Regions from separate parts of the Homo sapiens genome. Here region 1 is linked to region 2. The links come from fine-mapping of genetic effects on gene expression. A gene starts in region 2. The other region holds a variant in brackets. All regions are shown on one strand. Distances are from middle to middle. Region 1 has its middle 83 kb from the start of LINC00954. Region 2 holds the start of LINC00954 (long intergenic non-protein coding RNA 954).

What was found. PIP is the estimated chance that this variant, and not a neighbour inherited with it, causes the effect. A credible set is the group of variants that fine-mapping cannot tell apart.
Region 1: its variant is the best candidate, but not a certain one, in a credible set for the expression of LINC00954 in monocytes after LPS (Quach 2016, PIP 0.82).

Annotation. Positions count from the first base shown.
Region 1 is chr2:19,779,480-19,791,684 of GRCh38, forward strand. No RefSeq gene overlaps it. Among named protein-coding and RNA genes, the nearest start is that of LINC00954, 83 kb to the right of the region's middle. RefSeq lists an enhancer at 6,667-7,866. The variant C/T (reference allele first, on the strand shown) is at 7,166.
Region 2 is chr2:19,863,175-19,875,379 of GRCh38, forward strand. It overlaps LINC00954 (long intergenic non-protein coding RNA 954), which reads left to right and starts at 5,680. Exons shown (of 10, transcript NR_033875.1): 1 at 5,680-5,778; 2 at 6,322-6,439; 3 at 7,228-7,372; 4 at 9,219-9,422; 5 at 9,958-10,190. RefSeq lists enhancers at 337-837, 5,392-5,441.

The DNA of each region.
Region 1 (12,205 bases), 84 kb before region 2:
GGAACAAAGCATCATTTGCAAAGAGAAGAGCAGCAAGAGAGGGGGTCAAAGAGGAGTCTGGACCACCAGAATGAAGCCTTGGAGGCCATAGCAAGGGCTGCACATTTTGTCCTCGTGCAAAGGGAAGCCAAAAAGGGACTCTACACAGAGAAGTTACATGACAATTTATTTATGTAACCATCAGTCTGGCTGCTTGGGGACGGTAGGTTGGATGGGGCTCTAAAATAGAATCAAGGAGATCAGTAAGTTGCAGAGAAGTTCGAGAGAGAGATGATGGCAGCTAGGCTAAGGTAGGGACCATAGTAAAGAAATGGATAAGTTTGAAAATATTTGAAGATAGCATCAACAGAATTGGTGATGAATGAGTATGAGGACAACCAAGGGGGAAGCAGGGAGGATGATGCCTCAGTTTTCCAGCGGAGTAGCTGGGCAATTAGAGATGCCATTTATTGAGACTGAGACTGAGGTGGAGCAGGTTTGAGAGAGAATAGCAAGTTCTTCCTTTGGAGCCTCTTAAGTTTGAGCCTGTGAGACTTCGAAGTGGAGATGCTAAGAAGGCAACTGTCATGCGAGTTTCAAATTCAGAAAATGGAAGAATTTAGGAGTTGCTGGCACATAGTTGGACCCTGGGGCATGGGACGCCTGTTCAAACTTTTGAGGTATTTGCCCAGTTCACAATCACCCAACCCCACAGCAACGCCTGCAGGTAGGAAGGCACAGCGCCACTGCTCTCAGCCCACACCTTTTCACTTTTGTCACCCTCTCCTTAAAGGCCTCCATTATTCCTTGTTACCCAGAAGATAAAGTCCAAATATCTTAGCCTGCAATTCAAGGCCTTCTGGGATCTGGCCTCCACCTTCCTTATCTCCCTATTGCCTTACATGTGTCTCTGCACCAGCAAACTGGCCTCTTGACTGTTCCTGACACACCAATCCCTTCCAGCCCGCACACCTTTGCTCACAGGGGCCCTTACCTGGGCTTCCCTCCTCCCTATTCTACAATCAAATACTACTCAGGGCAAAGAGGATTGGAAGTGCTGATCACAAACACAAGATATGGGATGAGCTTCAGTCTAGAGGAGGTTCCAGCAAAGGACAGGGCATCACACCCTGGGCCACCTCCGTGAGCACAGAAAGGATTCAAGGCAACATGACTCTCTTTACCCATCTGCTAAATGGAGCTGAATCAGGCTAGTTTTTCTAGGCAAAAAACAGGTCACAAAATGTCCAATTTTAAGATTATTCTCAATGTCTCTTTGCCAGGTTACCCTTATCTGAGCAAACAGAATTCATTTCCAAAATCAACTCTCCATAAATTGTATTTGGGAGAAACCCTTACATAACTTTAGATATAATTAAGGGGAAAACAGAAAATGGGGGTGGGTGGGCAAAACGGTATGGAGAAGCTGATTGTACCCATAGATTGAAAGGATTCTATTCATAGATTAAAAGCTGGCTTTTGGCCTTATTTAAAAAAAAAAATTCTTCCCATTAGGGTGCTTGAGATGCCTAGAGGTAGGGTCGGAGATAAATCTGGTACTTACCATGACAGGCTGTGGAAGGAGGATGCCAGCTGGCCCTATAGACAGATTCTGCTTCATGGCTTTAGGACCAGTAGTTGGGGAGCCCAAGGCAATGCCCATGGCAACAGATCACCTGTGCATTTAGGCAGTAGCTTTTCGTCCTTGTCTTTGGTGCTCACTGCCAGCTGGCATTACCTTCATGGGCTCTTCTTTCTGATGGGGACTGGAATGGAGGAGAGGGCTTCCCACAGGATAAAGTACTCTCTGCCTACCTCTCCAACTTCATATAGACCACTCTCTCCCTGGCCCCCAGAGCTCCAGCTGTTTAAATCTCTCAGTTTCTTGAACCCACCATGCCTGTTCTTGTCCAGGCACTTTTGCTCTGCTGTTCCCACTGCTGCAAAACACTCTGCCCCTTTTCTGGGCTCCCTGGTGATATGCTAGCCTTTCGTGACCTCCTGGATTAGGGTAGGGGTCCTCTTCAGTTCTCTGGCCTCACCCTACACCCTCACACCCTGCTTCTCACTCCTCCAGGCTGCTGACCTTGCCACACCTCAGGCTTATAGAGGGAAGACCTGTGTCTGCCTGGGGCACAGTGGCCTCCGTGGTGCCTAGACACGGTGATGCTTCCTGCATGTTTACTGATAAAGATGTGAAGGAGAGTGCAAACTGCACTCAGCTCTTCTCTCATTCTAAAGAGCCACAGGAAAAGGTCAAGGCTCTGAGATTAACCGGGTGAGCCTCAGAGGTCATTGGATATGTCAAGATCGAGAAGTAGAGGATTCTCACATGAGAAATGAGAGTCATGGAAGTTAGCTGCAAAACTGTGCAAACTTTTTGTACTAGCAGATTCAGTCTTCCCATCCAGAATGGAGGTGTCTTTGTGGTGGACTGTCTCTTCCTGCTAGTAACTCTCCCAGGGTATAGTAATGATATGGTTTGGCTGCGTCCCCACCCAAATCTTATCTTGAATTGTATTCCCATAATTCCCACATGTTGTGGGAGGGACCCAATGGGAGATAATTTGAATCATGGGGGCAGTTTCCCCCATATTGTTCTTGTGGTAGTGAATAAGTCTCACGAGATCTGATGGGTTTATCTGCGCTTTCTGCTTTTGCATCCTCCTCATTTTCTCTTGCTGCTGCCATGTAAGAAGTGCCTTTTGCCCCCCATCCCGCCATGATTCTGAGGCCTCCCCAGCCATGTGGAACTGTAAGTCCAATTAAACCTCTTTTTCTTTCCAGTCTCTAGTATGTCTTTATCAGAAGACATAAACAGACTAATACAGTAAATTGGTACCAGTAGAGTGGGGTGTGGCTGAAAAGATATCTGAAAATGTGGAAGCAACTTTGGAACTGAGTAACAGGCAGAGACTGGAAAAGTTTGGAGGGCTCAGAAGAAGACGTGAAAATGTGGGAAAGTTTTAAACTTCCTAGAGACTTGTTGAATGGCTTTGACAAAAATGCTGATAGTGATATGAACAATAAGGTCCAGGCTGAGGGGGTCTCAGATGGAGATGAGGAACTTCTTGGGAACTGTTAGCAAAGAGACTGATGGCATTTTTGCCCCTGCCCTAGAGATCTGTGGAACTTTGAACTTGAGAGAGATAATTTAGGGTACCTGGCAGAAGAAATTTCTAAGCAGTAAAGCATTCAAGAGATGACTTGGGTGCTGTTAAGAGCATTCAATTTTAAAAGGGAAACAGAGCATAAAAGTTTGGAAAATTTGCATCCTGACAATGCGATAGAAAAGAAAAATCCATTTTCTGAGGAGAGATTCAAGCCTGCTGCAGAAATTTGCTTAACGAGGAGCCCAATATTAATCCCCAAAACAATGGGGAAACTGTCTCCAGGGCATGTCAGAGGTCTTCAAGGCAGCCCCTCCCATCACAGGCACAGAGGCCTAGAAGAAAATAGTTTCCTGGGCCGGGCCCAGGGTCCCTTTGCTGTGTGCAGCTTAAGGACTTGGTTCCCTGTGTCACAGCTGCTCCAGCCATGGCTGAAAGGGGCCAACATAGAGCTCGGGCCATGACTTCAGAGGGTACAAGCCCCAAGCCTTGGCAGCTTCCAAGTGATGTCGAGCCTGCCAGTGCACAGAAGTAAAGAATTGGTGTTAGGGAACCTCTGCCAAGATTTCACAGGATGTATGAAAATACCTGGATGTCCAGGAAGAAGTTTGCTGCAGGGGTAGGGCTCTCATGGAGAACCTCTGCCAGGGCAGTGCAGGAGGGAAATGTGGGGTTGGAGCCCCCACACAGAGTCCTTACTGAGGCACCACCTAGTGGAGCTGTGAGAAGAGGACTACCATCCTCCAGACTCCAGAATGGTAGATCCACCTATAGCTTGCACCACGTGCCCAAAAAAGCCACAGACACTCAACACCAGCTCATAAAAGAAGCTGGGAGGGAGGCTGTACCACAGCGGCCGAGCTGCCCAAGACCATGGGAAACCACCTTTTGCATCAGCGTGACCTGGATGTGAGACATGGAGTCAGAGGAGATCATTTTGGAGTTTTAAGATATGACTGCCCCGCCCATCCCATTTGCCTCTGTTCTCTTTTTCCATTCTGCAGATGTTTGGAGTCAGATCACTGTCTTTGGAAGGCAGTGTTTGGAGGAAGAGCACTTGCCAAAAGACCTGGCTCTACTGCTGCAACGGGGAAGTCAGGCGCCTGCAAAGGGCTTGGTCAGGACAACAGCAGCTCACCTCCCTGGCATGGACTCCTAACAGGCCCCTCAGTATCAGTCAGATACAGCCCCAGCCATTTGCCTTCCCTGCCCCCACTGCCCCCACACCTTCCCTTGTCCCCATCACTACCCTGCCTGCTGAGAATGCTCACTCAAAATCCACCCCCACTGCAGGAAGCCTTCCCTGACCACTACCCTTCAAACACACACACACACACACACACACCATACACACATTATAAACACATACCACACACACACAACCCACACTACACATACCACACACACATATGGTATGTGGGGCCAGGGGCAAAATGATATGGTTCGGCTCTGTGTCCCCACCCAAATCTCATCTTGAATTGTACTCCCATAATTCCAACGTGTTGTGGGAGGGACCCAGTGGGAGATAATTTGAGTCATGGGGGCAGTACAAACACATACCACACACACACCCCACACTACAAACACATACCACACATACACCCCACACTACAAATACACAACACACACACATCCCACACTACAAATACATACCACACACACACCCCATACACACACTACAAACACATACCACACACATACAACCCACACTACAAACACATACCACACACATACCCCATACACACAACACACACACTATACACATATACACACCACAGTCACATACCACACACGTTACATATACATACTACACACACTGTAAACACCATACACACATAACATGCCACACACATGCTACCCTACACACGCACACACATCCCTCCCACCAACCAGGCAACAGTGGCTTTCTTTTTCACAAAATCTGACTGCGTTGACTGCAGCTCTTCATGCAAAGCAACCAGAATAGTACCTGGCAAGTGTGGCCTTCTCCTTCCCCACCTGGGCCCTGAACATACCTGGTCTGTAGCCAGGGTTGCCCTACCTCTCCACAGAGCAAGAACCTGAAGGGTTTAGGTGGAGAGTGAGTCGACAGCCACATTCAGGTAACTGGGAAGATACCCAGGAGCGGGCTGGCCACACTCGGGGATGGTTTGAGGGTGATATGCAGATGACGCCACTCACCCCTGCAATGCTGCTTCACTCTTCAGAACCAGCACAGCCCAAACTGCTCAACAGTGTTTCATCCAAGCAAATGAGAGGCAGATTCCTTAATAAAGAAACAAAACAAAAGAGACCCACGCACTGAGAGTAGGAGGCTGGTTCTGACCTGACTCTGCCATGAACTCCCCGAATGACCTTGGACCAATCACTTGAGCTGCCCAGACCTCAGTTTACACTATATGTAAAAGAGGAATCGTTTTTCCCGGGGCCCTCTCACAGGATGGCTGTGATTACCCATGGAACAAGCAACAACTAAGGGCTTGCAAAGTTAAAGTGCCAGACAAAAAAGTCTCCCTGGTAGAGGTTGCAACTTCCTCAACCCCTGAGAGGTGACAAGGTAGATATCAGCAATTGGACTTACCTCCCAATCTAAGTCCAGGCATATGGCTTCCCCAATGCCATAAAGGGAAAGACAGGAAATTACTTTTTCCCTGAGGGTGCTGAACTAGGCAGATAGCCAGCCTATTGTTATTCAATGTCAGAGTCAAAAATCCTGAGAGACCTCGATACCCCTCACAACAGTGTCAAAACTGGAACAATCTTAACACACACACACACACACACACACACACACACACACAAAACTTTCACTTTCATCATCCCCGGGCATCCCACTCAGGGCATAAAGCACGCCTGGGAACAAGAATCACAGGTTTCCTACCTCGCTGGAGACTTCACAATGACCCAGGGCCCCTAAGAGTTCCAAATATAGTCCAGGCTCCCAGAGCCAAGGCAGTGACTGGCCAGAGCCTCCCCATTTAGGGGTACTGACCTGAGTGCCATCTACCCGTCAAAGTGCTTGAGCCACAACAACAACCCCTGAACGTGAGGCTGATTAAAGAGGGTTACGTGAACTGCCGAATTAAGCCGTCCAAAATTGGATAAAGTGATTGTGAAATCTGTTTTGAGTCAACCTATACATGTCTCATTGCAGGAAAATGTCTCGGTAAGAGTTCATGGAGAAAAAGTCTGGCAACTCATTGTTGGCTGACCTTCCTGGGCTCCTAATATTCAGTTCCCCAAAAGGCATCTTAGCCATGTAATTTCCAATATGGGAACAATTTGAGTTGCAATTAGGCAAATCTCAGAAGGTTCTGCCACTGATTTGTTCATTCTCTCAATATTATTCTATAGGACACACTAAAATACTGCACCAGGTTCACGCAGAGGACAATTAGGACTGCTGCATGTCAGGTTACAGAGGCTGGGTAAACACATCCATGTCGCCATTCAGGAATGGTGTCGTTAGGCCTGCAGAGCTGGGCACAGGGCCCTCTGCCCCAAAGGACACCTACTAATGGCTCTGTGGGGGACAGAGGCTGTTAGCAACCCAGAGCTTTGGGCTGTGGTGATGGCAGGTCCAGAGCAAGTGGAGAGGGGGTCAGGGTAGCTAGCAGCCGGAATGCAACCCTGGAGATTGTAGATGAAGGAAAGCTAACAGACAACCCCTGGCAGTAACATTAGATTTTGTTAAAAGCTACATCTTTCACTGAGCACCTCCTCTGTGTCAGGCTCAAGCCAGGGCCCAGGGACACTGAGATGAAAAAGACATAGCTCTTGACCTCAAGAAGCCCAGTGGGAGGGCATATCAGCAAGCCCAATTATGATAAAAGATAAATTACAATCAAGATACTATTTTCAAAAGTGCCAAGAAAGCACAGAAAAGGAAGAGTTTGATTCGCCTGCAGTGTAAGAATAAGCTTCCCATCGAAGGGCATATTTGAGCAAGCCTTGATGCATGGCTAAGAGTAGGGCAGGTAGAGAGGAGAGAAATGGCCATTTTAGAGGAGAATGCTTGGTTGGGATGAGTTGGCACTTTCTGAGCCATGAGTGCCTCCCAAGGACTGAGTCATGTT[C/T]CTCTTTTTCAGTAAGCAAAAACTGCTAGTCTTCAGTTTATCTCAGGCCTGCCTCCAGGGAGAAGAAACTGTCATTCCAGTCCCCTTTGAGGCATATTTGGGTTTCCCCGGACTCCTGTTATGATTTGCTCTTTGTCCCCAGGTGGCTAGTTTACTCCCAGCGAAGAGGAATGTCTGGATTCTCCTCTAAGCCCTTTGCACAAAGTGCAGAAGCTGTCTCATCCCTTCCTGACCAAGCACATGACTCCGACCAGATTCTGCTAGAATTCAAGCATAGGTGAGGGCAAAGCCAGCCTTGACTGGGGACCTGCAGAGCAAGGCCTGAGTCAGGTTTATCTTTGTTTTTCCTTTGCCCCCACACCTACTCAGGCCCAGCTCTCAGGATCAAGTGTGTGGGTGAGTGAAGAAGCCCAAGTCAATAGCCGGGCAGTGCCTGGATGGTTAAGGGAGCACTCAAATCTCAACCTTGGGATCTGGTTAAGGGGCCGAATCACAAGCAGGAGAGAGGGGAAAAATGGGGCAATTAGTCTCAGGAACGAAAGGCAGAGGTAAGTTGTGTCAGGGCCACGTGTGGAGTGAGATTCAGGGACCATATAGGTCTGGAAGCCAGGAAGGAGAGTGGGTCGCCACCGGGCAAACCCAGCTTCCCAGAGCAAGAGAACCTTAGGAAGCATGCAGGGCGACTGCGGAGGCAGAATCAACAACTCAGCATGGCTCCGCGTGGTGGGCATCCTGCTAAAAACCACCTTCCGATCACAGTGGGAGTCGATTTGCACTTTGTAAACAGAGTTCCCTTCCCTGACACAGGAGTACCCCTTCCTCCATGAATTTCCTTTGGCATCTTCCTGCAGGTGACATGGATAGGCAGCTGCCACTTTCCACCCACGAAGAAACCCTGAGGATGAAAACTACCCAGGAACACTGCATGACAACTGCAGCAGCCCCGCACTCTATCCCTGGGCCTCTTGCTCAACTGAGAAAAATAAGCCCTATTTGTTTAAACCAACTATTCCACTTTTTCTTTTCAAGCAGCCAAATTCACTCCCTGATACACCTGACACTGGGCAGGTACTTGGTAAATGCGCATGGATGCTCCTGAGTCATCAGATAGCAGGAAAGATGCAGATGATCCCTGTGGATGAAATGCCTTGCCTTGGCTTCCAGCTGCGTGATGCTGTTCAAACTTCAAATCAGCCCCACAGACACCCCTTCTCCTCTCTTTCTCCTTCACACACACATCTCCTTTGAGTGCAGAGAGGCTACCGTTCCTGCAACAGAATCTGCCTTCCAATCGCAAGGTCACTCATCAAGGTGCTGCTTAAGCTGGGATTATTTCTTAATGATGTTCTAGGAGGGACAAAGCAGGAGCTCTCACCTATAAGTCCCGGAGCCAGGCCCTTCATGCGTCCCCGTCCCAGTCTCCTCATCTGGTAAATAGGGGTTAAAATTATTCCACAAGTCATAGATGGGGTAAAAAATGCTCCTTTTGGAAGTAAGAGTTTATTTCTGTCATGGTTAGTATTTTCTCATTTGTTTCTGGCTGAATGAAAGGTCTGCTGCTTCTTAATGATACTCCTGGTGCTGGGCATGGTGGCTTATGCCTGTAATCTCAGTACTTTGGGAGGCCGAGGTAGGAGGATCACTTGAGCCCAGGAATTTGAGACCAGCCTGGGCAACATAGCAAGACCCCCCCTCTACAAAAATAAAAATAAAAAAATTAGCTGATGTGGGGGTGCACACCTGTATTCCTAGCTACTCTGGAGGCTGAGGCAGGAGGATCACTTGAGCCCAGGAGTTTGAGATCACAGTGAGCTATGATCCTGCTGCTACACTCCAGCCTAGGTGACAGAGTAAGACCCTGTCTCTAAAAATAAATTTAAAAGAAAATTAAGGATACTCCCAGATCATAAAATTATTCTGCCAAGATGCTTGTGGCTTCGCTTAGGGATACAGCTACCCCAAAGCAGACAGTCGCTTGTCCAGTATCTCCTGAGCCACTACCAACACATAAGCCCAACCCCATCCGGACAGTAACCAGACCTGTGCCTTCCTAACCCAAATACAGGCTCTAAGGGTTGGCTGGGGGTGAGGATAGGAGCCTGAGCCTTCTTGCAGGTCTCACTGCCCAGTGCCCCAGCCCTCCAAGGTCTCCCCTTGACAGGCCTAAAAATGAAAACGCCTAATCCTACACAGGGTACAAGACACATCACAAGCCACGCAGATGTCACTGGCCATTTTAAAAAGCCCATGCTGGACATGGCTGTACCCAGAGAGCCTAAGGACTCCAAGAAATACCACTGGGGACTGATCACATTTGATTCTCTCAGTGACCCACTGACCCTAAGTACAGTGTCCAGTGTCTATACTGGTGCCTAGAGTTGGGCTGTCCTGCCTCCAAGGAGGCCTGCTCAGCGGGTGGGTCAGTATGTAAATAACTGGGCACAGAAAGAGCCTGAAAGTCAGGCCCACCCATGCTGGGGGAAAGGCCCAGAGCAGGGAGAAACACTTTTTCCAGGAAATCAGGAAAGCCATCATGAAGATTTCCCCAGCACGGGTCATTCTGAAGGAGGCAACAGCATGAGCAAGGGTGGGAAGCAGGAAAACAAGCAGCATCAACAAGGAATGGAGGGCTCAGTCCCAGAACACCTGGTGCTGATGGGGAGCAAGGAGAGTGGGGTAGGAAGGCAGGCTGGGGGCCAGGGAGGGCCAGAAGTTGGGCTTTGTCAGGAGGATGTCAGATGACATTGATGCATGGGGGGTATGACAAAGGTGGTCCTTGAGAAGATGGATCTGGTAGAGGATAGAGAGGGAGGGTGAAAGCAGGGAGCAGGGAGAGCTTTGGGGTGGCCCTGGTGGGCTCTGAGCTAGGATGCTGACAGCAGAAACAGATGGGAGAGAGGTCTTACGGTGGGAGAATTGGTCAGCCAGAGCTGCACTCTGAAAACAGGGAGTGGCAAAGAGAATACCCAGCATTTGGTTTGGGTGCCTAAGAGCATAGTGGTTCAATGAAAAACCTCAGGAACTAAAGAAAATAGCAAGTTAGAGAGAAGATGGTGAGCGGTGCAGAGGGAGCATCCCCTCCTACCGCACCACACTTTCCCGAGTGTACAGACCATACTCTCCTCCCTGTTGGAGCTATTTGAGACCACATCCGTCCCCACTCCAGGTGTCATGCAGAGCTTCCCCCATCCCTCAACTCTGGTCCAATGCCTGTTACAGCCTTTGACAGGCCGTTGATTCAGGGATGTTTGGTCATTCATGGGTTGAGATCCATGAAGTCACTTTAAAGGACAACACAAATGTGTCCCTGCCTCTGGTGACCGGAGCCCAGCACTGTCTCGACGGGAGATAATGAGACCGTCCCTTGATAGCAGGTGTCACTTAGCTCCATGGAATCAACCTCTTCTTGCTTCAATGTCACTGCCAGGTGGAGGAGAGCCATATCTGAGCATCTGTTTGTTTACAGGCATTGGCCATGGGGATTCCCTTTTGGCCAAGAACCAGAGTCCCATACCATGATGATTTCCAGCTTCTTTTCCATTGATTAACAAGCCGCAGGGGGGGTGTCACAATAAAAACCAATGCTACCACAGACCCATTAATTGTAGCTCCTTCTAAGCCCAATCAGCTGCAGGTAGGGTGACCAACCATCCCAATTTGCCTGGGAGTCTCCAGTTTTAGCACCAAAAGTCACACACCGCAGGAAAGTCCTCAATCCCAAGCGAATGTGAACAGCTGGTCACCCTAGCTGCAGAAGAGCTCTCTGATGTCCAGACAGGAGCAACCCTGAGGAGTTTCTTGGTTTGTGTTCCCAGCTGCTGTGGGAACACAGGCAGACAGCCAGCAGAGGCACTGCCCCGGGGCCGCCGAGTCTCCCCACCACAGACTCAGGCCCTCCGTAGCCTCTTCAGAGGCTACAATGCCCTGTCCTTTGCCTCCACCCCCTGTGAGATTAAGCCCATCCTCAGAGGCCCGCCAGAAGGCTGGGCACACAACATGTGCTCTGTAAGGAATGGTCAATTGTCTTAGGAAGTCTGTCCCTCTGCCTCTCCGATCTTCGCTTTTCTCCTCTCAGGGAAAGGCTGAATGGATTCATGTGGGCACTTGATTCTACCGGAATGCCACAACCAAGAATTAATTCCCAGGACAAATTCAGGTTCCTATTGCTGATTTATTGACACTCTATCCATCCAAATCCAGTTTGGTAAACCATTTAATCATGAGGTTTGTATATGAGAGTTTCCTAATGAGACATTTTACACCTTTTTTTGTTTGTTTTTTTTTTTTTGAGATGGAGTCTCGCTCTGTCACCCAGGTTAGAGTGCAGTGGGGCATGATCTTATCTCACTGCAACCTCCACCTCCTGGGTTCAAGTGATTCTCCTGCCTCAGCTTACCATAACTGGGATTACAGGCACCCACCACCAAGCCCAGCTAATTTTTTGTATTTTTAGTAGAGACAGGGTTTCACCGTGTTAGCCAGGATGGTCTCAATCTCCTGACCTCGTGATCAGATCTTCTGACCTCATGATCTGCCCACCGCAGCCTCCCAAAGTGCTGGCATTACAGGCGTGAGCCACTGCACCCAGACTTTACATCTGTTTTCTAAGAAAAGAAGCCATATGTTTCCAAGAGCAAACTGACTTGGTACCCTCAATAATGGAGTCCTGCTAAGGGGACTTCTAGGGAAAGGAGAGTCCTCTTTATCCTGTAAGGAGTGGAAAAGTGAGAGGCACGCAAAAGGCTAGATGCTGCACCACGGGGACATGCAGACTCACCTGCTTTGTGTTTTTAATAAATGTTTTTATTTTGAGATAACTTTAAACTTACAGAAAAAGCGCAAAGGTAGTACATGGAGTTTGCCAATGTTCCCTGTTGTTAATATTCTTACATTTCCACAATATATTCATCAAAACTAAGAAACCAGCATTTCCACAATATATTCATCAAAACTAAGAAACCAGCATTGATTGGCTACAATTAGCTTTTTTTTCCTTCAGATTTCACCAGTTTTTCCAACGTCCCTTTTCTGTTCCAGGAT
Region 2 (12,205 bases):
TCAGATCTCGTGAGAACTCACTATCACGAGAACAAACAGCAGGGGGGAACCGCCCCCCTGATCCAATCACTTCCCACCAGGTCCGTCCCCTGACACATAGGGATTACAATTCAACACGAGATTTGGGTGGGGACACAGAGCCAAACCATACCATCCACAGAAAAGCATGCTCTTACACAGTCGGGATACATCCTGCTGTTGTCTGCAAACAGCTTGCGTTTACAGGGAGCAACAGCACCATCTCTGGCTGAGTCAGGCCCATCTGCCTTCAGAACAGAGCCTGGCCAAGGGGCCACCTCCCCGCGCGGGACAGGCCAGCACACAGTAGGCGCTCAAGGAGCCGGGGACAGAGGCGAGGGCGGCCCACTCGTGGAGCGAGGGCGACACCCAGTGGCCATGTGGAAAATGACCTGCTCGAGCCCAAAGGCGGGTGGCAGCAGCGTCTGATCCGCCAGCCTCAGGCCAGGAGGCGGTGGCCGAGTCCGATTTGAGTCCCATGTCCTCTGGACTGCAAGTTGAGACTCCCGGTCCCAGGAGGGACAGCAAGGCCTTCTCCACCTTCACAGGCCATCTGACTACCTGCGCAGCTGTTTAAAGAGCAAACCGCGCATGAGTTAGGCCGCTTGGCCCTCCCATTCAGACCCCTCAGGCCGCCTGTGGACAGCCTGGCTCACCCTCTAAGAGCCTTCCTGCCCGCCCTGGGAACACACACCGCAGGGTCCAGGGACTGGCGTCAGGAGCAGAGCGAACTCAGCGCCACCTGGGCTCCAGGCCAGGCTCTGCTCCAGGACTGGCCCCTCCCCGATTCCCATCCCTGAAGCCAGGGCCACTGGGGTTATAGTGAACCGCTTCTGAGGACACGTGCAGCTAAGGGTGAGCAACTTGTTTTTTGTTTGTTTGTGTTTTGTGTGTGTGTGGTTTTGTTTTGTTTTGTTTTTTGAGATGGAGTCTCACTCTGTCGCCCACACTGGAGTGCAATGGCGCGATCTCGGCTCACTGCAGCCTCTGCCTCCCAGATTCCAGCGATTCTCCTGCCTCAGCCTCCCGAGTAGCTGGGATTACAAGTACCTACCACCACACCAAGCTAATTTTTGTATTTTTAGTAGAGATGGGGTTTCATCATGTTGGCCAGACTGGTCACAAACTCCTGGCCTCAAGTGATCCGCCCGCCTGGGGCCTCCCAAAGTGCTGGGATTACAGGCGTGAGCCACCCCACCCTGGGTAAGCCATTTGTCTTCAAGACCCCAAGCCTTGATATCAGACAGCTGGGTTCAAATCCGATCTCTGCCCCGCCCAGCTCTGCAGCCTCGGGAAATTCTCTATGGGGCCTTTCCTCTCTTGGGTTACCACGGAGATTCGATGATGGCAGGTGCTTAAAGCTCCCCACGTGGTACCTTTCCCGTAACAGGTGCTCAGTGGTCGCGGGCTCTTCTTTAGCTTTGTCTGCATATCAGCACGACAGAAAACAGCTGCACCGTATCTCAGGCAGCCCCAGGTATGTGGAACTAAGTGATCAAAATCAGAGACATCTGCCTCTGCTGTTCTGCAAAGCCTCTGCCCTTCCTCTCACACAGACCTGATCACACCCCCACACCAAAACATACACGTGCAAGCTGCCCAGGGCCCCTTGCTGACTGCCTCAGGGTCAAGTTCACACCGATCCCCCCACCACCAGCACAATTATCCAGCCTGGAACCCCAAGTATCCATCCTAGAAGCTGCTGTCCCCTGTTGCCCTCATCCCCACCCCTCCAGCCGCCTAGAGAAGACTGGGAAAGCCCAGAGAAGAGCAGGGCAGGCCCCTCTACTTGTTCCCTTACTCAGGCAGGTCCAAGGCAGGGCCCTGGAGCCCAGGGACAGAGGACAGGGAGGGTCCTAGGCCCACCCAGCTCAGAAGCTCAGTGGAGAGGAAGGAAGGGCTCAAGAAGCTAGAAGGATGCGGTTGTTACTACCTTCGACAGAACCAACAAACCAAGCTCAGAGCCAATTCTTAGGCAGAGTGTGTCAAGTAAATCTTACTTTCAAGCCCTGGGAAGATGTACCCTCATGCTAGCGGTGGGGGTGGGCATTCCTGTTGTACTAGGGGCTGTGACCCCTCCCAAGACCCAGCCTTACAGTATGGCTGCAGAACTACCCCTCCCACTAAGTGTCCTCATCCTCCCTCAGCCACAGCCTGAGATGAGCCTGCAGGGCCTTTCCACTCAGTGACTTTAGATAAGCAGAAACAGAGGCCTGGAGAGTTTAGGGGAATTGCCCAAAACCACAGAGCGAGTAAGTGGTAGAAGCAGGTGAAATTGTTTAACATTATTTTATTTGACCCAGTATATCTAAAATATTATCATCTTGACACAATATGAAAATGTTAGAGGTACTTTACATTCTTTTATTTATACTAACTCTTAAAAATCTGGTATATATTTAACACTTAACAGCCCATCTCAGTTTGGGTGCTAAATTTTCATTGAAAATACTTGATCTGTATTTAGATTTCATAAACTTTGCAGTGGCAGATTCACATACTTTAAATGTGAATTTGTTGTTCCAAACAAAGTGTTCACATGAAGTGTGAGTTCATTTCACCCACTCCACTGCCGTACTTTAAAATTTTTTAGTAACTGAATTGTTGGCTTTGGGTTTGTTGTTGTTGTTGTTGTTTTTGGAGATAGGGTCTTGCTCTGTCACCCAGGCTGGAGTGCAGTGGTGAGATCATAGCTCACTGCAGCCTTGACTTCCCAGGCTCAAGCAATCCTCCCACCTCAGCTTCCTGAGTAGCTGGGACCACAGGCATGCACCACCATCCCCAGCTTTTTTTTTTTTTTTTTCTATTTTTTTGTAGACATGAGGTCTCACGATGTTGTCCAGGTTGGTCTTGAACTCCTGGGCTCAAGTGATCCTCCCACCTGGGCCTTCCAAAATGCTGAGATTGTAGGCGTGAGCCACTGTGCCCAGCCAGTATTTTTTATTTTAAATGAATTCAAATGAGAAATTCAGTTCCTCAGTAACACTGGTGACACTTCAAGTGTTCAGTAGTTGCATATGCTAGTGTCTATCAGTGGACAAGCTAGCACTAGATCTTTTTGCAGAATCCTTAAATGAGACCATACCCAGCTATACAGCACTTAGAAATCCATGTCTTGGCCGGGCACAGTGGCTCACACCTGTAATTCCAGCACTTTGAGAGGCAGAGGTGGGTGGATCACCTGAGATTAGGAGTTCAAGACCACCCTGGCCAACACAGTGAAACCCCGACTCTACTATAAATACAAAAATCAGCCGGGCATGGTGGTGCCCACCTGTAATCCCAGCTACTCAGGAGGCTGAGGCAGGAGAATCACTGGAACCTGGGAGGCTGAGGCTGCAGTGAGCCAAGATTGCGCCACTGCACTCCAGCCTTGGCAACAGAGTGAGACTGTGTCTCAAAAAAGAAAAGAAATCCCTGTCTTTTCTTGTCCTGTCCAAGTACTCAGTTTCTACAGGCTTCATGTTATAGGGCGGTGTGTCCCAAATCCCTCTAGCTGATTTAGGGGTATGAGTAACAGTTAAAGCATCAAGAGAAGTAGCCACCAAATAGAAATGAAAGTATGGTGCCATTTCTGCTCATGTAGCCACTACCCCTAAAGAGGCAACACTTGTAAAGCATCCATGGAGTAAAACAAGTCTGCACATCTCAACAACTCAAGGGCACTAAGCAAAGACCATGGAGCTGCAGCAACAGGATGCTATTCAGACTGTTAGGAGGCCCACACATAACTCATTTGAGAGCACAAGGTTAATAAGTGGCAGAGCCAGAACTAGAGCCTAGGTCCTTGCACTCACGGTCTGAGCTCATCAGTGTGTGAGCTCACTTCACCCACTCCATTCCTACAGCTACAGAGTTCCCCGTGGAAGTCTCAGTTGCACACCAGAGAGGCATCTGGGGGAAAATGTTCCACCTGGTCTCATGGCCTAGGAGACAAAGAACCCTGGGTTAGGATCTCAACTCTGGACTTAGTAATGACCCTGAATAAGCCTGGGCCCTCATGTCCTTCCCACCTGCAAAATGGAGGCTGTATCCCTGTTCTAGGCCCTCTGCAACAAAGCATCACAAACTTGGTGACTTCAAACGACAGAAATTTATTCTCTCCCAGTTCCGGAGGCCAGAAATCTGACACCAACTTGTGGAAAGGGCCTCCAAAGCCTCGAGGAATCTTTCCTGGCCTCTTCCAGCTTCTGGTGAATGCAGGTGTTCCTTGGCTTGCGGCAGCAGAACTCCAGTCTCTGCTTCTGTCTTCACATCACTGCTGTCCACTCTTCTATCCCAAGTCTCCTTCTGCCTTTCTCTTAAAAGAACACTTACATTGGATTTAGGATCCACCCAGATGATCCAGGATGAACTCTTCTTCTCAGACTCCCAATTACTTCTGCAAAGGCTATGTTTCCAAATAAGGTCACATTCACAGGTTCTAAAGGTTAGGTAATGAACATATCTTTGTGGCAGAATTGGGGTGGAGGGGAGCGGAGGGAGGCTCACGGTTCAACCCATGGTAAGGAGTTTGGACCACGTGAATTCCAGGTCTCACTCAGCTCTGAAAACATACAAAAATGGCAAAGGGCAACTATCTCTACCACATAAAGAATACATCCAAGTGCCTCAGGTCAACATCAACATCCCAAGAAGTAAATGGACAGTTCACACATACAATTAGAAGATGCTCTAATTAGCAAGCAGACACACGTGGGAGTTTTGCCTTTCTAACGTCAGAGAGATGCAAACTAAAAAATTTGTTTAATCTCAGAAAACTAAAACCAAATGCTGGCAAGGATGTGATGGAACTGAGACTTAAACATGGATCTGCCATTTATTCCCTGGGACTGGCTCAGGGTAGGCACTTATTGATTTGACTTGCCGATGGATGGTTAATTGGCAAAACTCTTTGGGGGGAAACTGTGGCAACATATTCCAAGAACCTTGAAAATAAAGATGGCTATTGGCTGAAAATTCCTCATCTGTACTGAGAATTTATCCTAAGGAAATCATCCTTGTGAACAAATATTTGTCTCAGCATTATTTATAACATCTAAATAGTGCAAACAACCTAAGCCTTCAAGAGAATGGGAACAATTCTGCACAGAAGTTCCGCAGCCGTGAAAGTGATGTTAAAACCGGGAGAACAGATAAGGCTAGTTGAATAAATCGGGACCACTGAGGAGGAGGCAGGGGAGGTTTAGGGGTGCCAGCAATACTTCGCTGTGGGTGATCAAGAACATGATGTGATTGCTGTAGAATCACTTCCTTAAACTGTGCATTTGTATTATGTATTTTTTATGCTTAAAACACATTTTAAGAAAAACCGAAGATTTTATTTTTTCTTTTTAACAGCTGAATCCAAGAATCCTAGGACACTCTTAATTTGTCCCAGAAGTGTGAAGTCCACCTAGGGCATAGCCGTGAAGGGCTCCCAGAACTGTACGGGGAATTTTGAGGCTGGGGTACCGCAGTGAAGTGCAGCTCACCCGGGCGGAGCGCACCTGACCTGGCTTCCACACCTGGTGGAGCGCCTGGGAGGCCTCGCGGATAAAGCCCCGGGCAGCGCGTGACCCGCCCCAGCCCAGTAGTGGAGTCCCCGCCGCGGGCCCCTTGCTTGCAGGGTAGGTGTGGCCCGGTCGTCCCACTCTCCGCCCCCTCCTGCTCCTCCTCGCCGTGCCCAACCCGCCCGCTTCTCCTGCCTAGGCTCTTCTTTCTGCTCCTGTCGCCATGGCCCCGGCCTCGGCGCTCAAGCGACCCTCTCGCTCCGCCCAGGTCAGTGAAGGATGGGATGCAAGTGCCCGCCAAGCCCCCCGTTTCCCACGTGGAGTTCCCACAGGGCAGCAGGGAGGGGCCGCGCCTTCTCTAACTGACCCGAACCGACCCGGGCTTCACAGGCTTCGTGGAGAGCAGCTGCCCCGCCGGCATCTTCCGGATGAGGCTCTCTAGACAACAAAGCCTTCTACGCGGAAGTTACTGGTGACAGGGGAAGGACTCATGGGTTTTTGCAGCCCGGTGTCCCCAAAACAACCTCCTGACCCCCAGCCCACCCAGGTTCCCTGCTAGCCCGCCCAACCCAGAAAGACTGGCCTGCCTGGGGTCCAGCAAGGATACAGAATCGCGCAGCTGCCCCCCACAGCCTGCCGCCCAGCATCGGTTCTCCCACCCATCTGCCTGTCCCCACCCGCTATGAGACGCCCTGGGTCTGCTTCCCTGGGACCAGCCCTCAGCGTTGCCTTAAGTGATTCTGGTGCCAGGGACTCTGAGGACCCCCAGGCTCCTCCAGGCTGGCAGGTGACCATACTCCTTCCACTGCAGACCCCTGGATGCCCAGCTGCCGCACCTCCCGTGGCCCCACGCTGTGGCTACGTGTTGTCTGAAGACGCCTGGGGAAACCTTCAGGGCCTCTGTACTGGCCTGTCATGTGGTCAACCAGGTGAGCAAGCTTCTGAGATGCCCTTGTTCAATTGCCCAGGAAACAGGTGTCCAAGATTCATATGGAAGAAATCTGGCCCTGCCCTCAGCACTGAGGACATTTGGGGAATCCAGCATCCCCTCCTGGATGCAGATCGCTTCCGCCTGGCACAGGCTGTCTTCACAGCTGCAGAGTCCTCTTGTGTCTAAGAACAGAGACCACAGTTCCATCTTTGCCTTGCCAGGATTGACCTCTAATGAATAGATCACCTTTGTAAGGTGGACCAAAAAAAAAAAAAAAAAGAGCATTTCCAGGTGGCTGTAACTGACAGCTGGGAACTGCCAGAGTGTGGCAGGAGGCCCAAAGCTGTAGGAGTTTAGAGGAAGCCGCATGCAGGCACCTTGCGCTCAGATGAGGCATGGGGTAGAACTGCAGATGAGAGCAATCAGAAGGAGACTCGTGGGATAGCAGGGTTTAACCTGGCTACGATGTCAGCAAGGTGGACGGGGAGACTGGGGCCCCAGCTATGCCTGGATTTAGGGGTTCAAAGGTATAGGGAGCTAGCAGGAGCACTTCAACAGAACAGAGGTGAGATTAGTGTCAGATCACTAAATCCTAAGTCTCTTCTGTGCATCTCTACCTGCTCTATTTCATCATGCTCCCTTCCCTGCACACCTCCAGCCGTCTGTCTACTAACAAGAGACCCGTACCTCAGTCCCACTGAGCCAGGTGGGACTGGGCCAAACCTCCCTATTTGATTCTTGCCTCATCTTCCCTGGGACTTCGGTGCTTTCTTGCCCTTCTTCCAGGATAATAGATGGTTTTCCCTCAGTGTGAACATCGAGGTGTCTGGGTTCATGGAAGCTGGTGAAGAAACCACCTACAACTATACCATGTCCTGTCCCTATTTCACATGGGCCTCGAGGAAGATTCTCTGAAGGGAACTACATGGAGGTGAGCACAGGTAACCCCAGCCAGAATGCTGGGTCTCCTGGGGCCGAAACTACCTCCTTCGTTCTATGAAGTGAGGCCACACTTGATATTTTCATGGAACCAAGTCCCTTAGTACTTAAGCCTTATCAGCCATGAAATAGACCCTTTTCGGGAAACAAGATTTGATTAAGTTGAAAGGAAATCAGAATGTCAGCGATCTCTGCACTCCTATGGTCATTGCAGCACTATTCACAATGATATAGAATCCACCTAAGTCCCTCTCAGTCCCTCAGTTGGATGAATGGATAAAATGTGAAATAGATTAGATACACACACACACACACACACACACACACAGGAATACCATTCAGCCACTTTTAAAAAATGAAATCCTGTCCCTTGCAGCAACGTGGATGAACCTGGAGGTCATTATGTTAAGTGAAACAAGCCGGGCACGGAAAGACAAATACCACGTGACCCCACTCATTTGTGGAATCTGAAAAAGCTGATCTCAGAAGTAGAGACTATAGAATAGTGGTTCCAGGTAGCTGGGAAGTGTAGGAGAGATAGGTTAAAAGGTACAAAATTCCAGTTAGGAGGAATAAGTTTTAATGTTCTATTGTACAGTAGGGTGACTATGGTTAACAATAGTATATTGTATATTTATCATATTTATAATTTATATTGTATATTTATAAGAGGATTTTGAATGCTCTTACCACAAAGAAATGATAAAGGTTTGAGGTGATGGATACGCATTACCCCGATTGGATCATTACACATTGTAAACATCACACTGTATCCCATAAATATGTACAGTTATTATGAGTCAATTAAAAATACAACTTCAAATCTTGATTTAGGTTGGCAGGTAAGGAACAGAGGCCTAAAGGTAGGTGGGCTGTACACAGTCATCATCCAACCACGTGGCTCATTGCTGTTGCCTTGGGCTCAGAAGTAGCATCAAAGCTGGTGCCCCAACCAGGCCCTCGGCCCTTAGGATATCTCATGAGAACCTAGGTCCCAACAAGAAAGGCCATTCCTATGAATGACGTGACCCTTAGGCTGCATCCCTGCTCCAGGAGATGTAACTGGACCTGTGTGGGTATCTGCTGGGTCAGGTCCTGGGAATCTGCATTTACAGCCATGTGGTGTAGGGATCCCAAAGGAGAGGCTAAGACACTTGTAACTGGAGGAGGGGAGGGGAGTCAGGAGACAGAGCTGCATGAAGAGCTTGCTTGTTGGCAGGTGTCTGTGAGGATCAAATTGCCCATGGTTTCTGAAGCCCAGGACCCTGAGCAATGGATGTCAGCATTGGCTGGATGCACTCCCCATGGTAGGACTGAGGACTGACCAAGCAATCCCTGGCCAGCCCACATGGACCTGCCTACCACTCTCCCATACAGTGTGCAGGTAGCCTGCAAGCAACATCACAGCCTTCAAATTCCCTGCAGCCTATTGAGATCCTAGAGACAGGAGCCCCACCTGTCTCATCTTGCCTACCTGGGGAGGTACCCCTGTCTTTGCCAGTCTTGCCTCCAACTGGGAGCCTCTTCTGCCGGTCCTCTCTGCTGAGCCCTGCTCACACCGAGCCAGGTGGTGGAGGGACAGTGAGGGTTGCTGAGTGAAGCTATGTAACTTGTACAGCCTGCACAACTCCAAGCAGTAGCCCTGTGTCTAGTATTTTTTGGGGGGAGATTCTGGTCAGCCTTGATTTTTGGGCCTTTTTAGTGTTCTATCTTGCCAACTTAGTAAAAGATCTGGTTGTCTTGCATTTGAGAGGAGATGAGAGAAGCAAGTACCTCTTTTTTGTAAGAACAAGTAAGTGAACAAGTGCCTCTTTCCTGCCTTGCATTCAACTCCTTAGATCTCCTTGATTGCACGGTCAACCCCGCTCCTGTCTGTCAGGCTCAGGAACCACTTACAAGCTATGGCAGGTGATGTTCCAGCATCCCACAGGGAGGATTATGCTGGTGAGCCACATGGCCAAGCAGGACTATGGCTTCAACAGCTCTGGGGCCTGCATGTTCCTGCATTAGCCCTACTCCAGCAATGAGGCTGAAGTTACCAGGTGAGTTTCATCTACCCCACTCTAATCCTTGGGAGAGCGAGAGTGGGGACAGATCAGGAGGATGCTCTTTAACTGACATCTGTGAGCTCTGAGCACAGAGTACTATTAGGTTGATGCAAAAGTAATCTCAGCTTGGTCAAATAGCTTAAGTCTGCTTTTATCTTTATGAGCAATTCTAATCAAAACTGGTCATGTTCCAGGGAGCAAATAGATTAATGTGGGAGCAAATAGATGAATGTTTTCAGGATTTAGGCATCTGGTCTTACTTATAGGAAGTTTATTTCATCTCAAACAACTCCTGTATCATCTTCTCTAGGTTTTAATATAACTCAATACCTGCCTCTCTCTAAAGAGTGCCCCTGGGTAGGACTGAGGTGTGATCTCATGGGGTGGTATAACATCACAGCTGTAACTCCAGCTAGAAGTTTGTCTCAATCCCGATTGGCTGGCCAGCTATGGTTTTCTAGGGAAGGCAGTTGGCAAAGTGCCTCATCCACAGCACACCTCTCATCTGCTGCCTCTTTGTTTCTCATAGAGTGACATCATGGTATCTGGTGCAAGCTATAGCATCCACCTATTCTTGGAGCACACGTGGTCAGACACTGATTGGCATGTGACCAAGTTGATGGTGGTCAAAACAGAACTCCTTTCATGCCCACAAGCTTCAGTATTACTATGTTCCCTGCCACTTCCGTTGAAGTTTTGCAGGATTGGGATGATCCTTTGGTGTGAACGAAGCCCCAAAGAGGACCACGTGGAGAGTGCCTGGTAGGTCTTAGTGTGTACAGCAGGAATACTGACTTGGCATAAGGGCTCAAGTTTTAGCAAGTACAGCCCATCCCATCTGGGCCAGCTTCTACCTTTAGGCCTCAATATGCCCATAGACTGATTCAGTTTGAGTTCTGATCACTTGTAGCCTGTAACTAAGGGCTAGGTAAGTGCATTCAGAGTTCTGTCAAAAGTGTGATCTTGATATTTAGAAGTAAAAGCTTCAGAACATCAACTTTCTAGCCTATCATCCAATTAATGCTTAAAAACATGATATAGACCTTCCTTTAGAACTATCATTCAGGCCAGGCACAGTGGCTCATGCCTATAATCCCAACACTTTGGGAGGCTGAGGCAGGCAGTTCACCTGAGGTCAGGAGTTCGAGACCAGCCTGGCCAGCATGGTGAAACCCCATCTCTATTAAAAATACAGAAATTAGCTGGGTGTGGTGGTACACGCCTGTAATCCCAGCTACTCAGGAGGCTGAGGCAGGAGAATCACTTGAACCCGGGAGGCAGAGCTTGCAGTGAGCCAAGATCATGCCACTGCACTCCAGCCTGGGCAACAGAGCAAGACTCCGTCTCCAAGAAAAAAAGAAAAAAAAAAACTATTATTCAGACTCTAATGTGATTGAATAACTTTCGGTCCTGAGGAGAGACAACAGTAGTAAGGATTCTTTTGACCTCCATGAGCCTATAATCTACACAAAGAAGATTGTGGTTAGCCCTCACATGCGAGCTTATTTTTTTGTGTTCAGCCGCTACTTAAGCCAACATACAAAGGGACAAAGCTGGATAAATTGCACTCTTACCTGGGATGGTGAGGCTAGTATGTTAGTGGTTATTTGCATAAGGAATGGCTGGCAATTTTTGACTGATGCTGCTGGGTTGCCCTCGGGTTTATGAATGGGCTTATGTTCTCAAAATGGCCCTCGCTGATCACATCCTTCCTGTGGTTCCTCACTCGGCCTTGTTCCTGAGTTACTGGCTAAAGAAGGATTGACTCTAAGAGACAAGAGCATCTTTGGGGGGAAAGGGGAGAAGATTATCAAAGGACACAGACACCCCTAGTCCTTTCTAGTCCCCTCACAGGAAAGAGAAAACAGGATGCTCTTAGCTCTGAGGACTTAATTAAGGGAGACTGGGAGAGTCTGTTGCCGGTAAACCACAGGCTGTAATAGATGAGAACTTCCAACAGACACGGTCCCTGGGACAAGACTCTTCAACATCACCTTTGGAGCTGTCTTCCCTGGTGACCAGTTGGTGGCAATGGGGATCAGAACTGTGCCCTATCCTATTTCAGAAGTGGATGAACCTGGGTATAAGGTTTGGGAAATTTCCCTCCCAGATGGAACACAAAGGTTTGTGCTTGAAGTGTCCTTGATGACACAGAAGTGATTAAAGAGGTCAGCCAGTGCTCATGTCCAGGTAAGAAGCTGTCAGTTTGGACAGATCCTCTGCCCAGCAGATAGCTTACCAGATAGTGTTACCTGCTGGGCAGGTAACATACTTCATAGGCAGAGCTCTCACCCACCCCACCCTCACAGGTCATTAAATTACATGAGCACGTCTTGTCTAATCTAGCTTGGCAGGCTGGAGCAGTTTGAAACACTGTAATGGAGAGACCAGTAGCCACTCGAGTACGTGACAGAGTGGACATCCTCATTGGATTGAGGTCTCAAGCCCCCCATCAGGTGGTGGGCACACAAGGACAGGGCCTACTCTGCTATGCTGTCCAGCCTGAGCAGATGCTGTAAGGGGGCAGGAGGCTGTCCTAGGGTCACTACCCAGAAGTGGCTTCGTAAATTCAGGCAGCCTTTTGCTCAGCATGGCTCTAAGCTATGGTCAACCTGAAATAATTGAAAGGATCAGAATCCAGTTTTAAAGAGTTTATTCAAGCAAAAAGCTGGGAATGACCATACAGGAAACAGACTTCAGAGAAATGGAATAAGTGCTCCGAAGTTAAAAGTTAAGGTCTTGCTTATATAGGCAGAAAATAAAGAAATTCAGTAGGA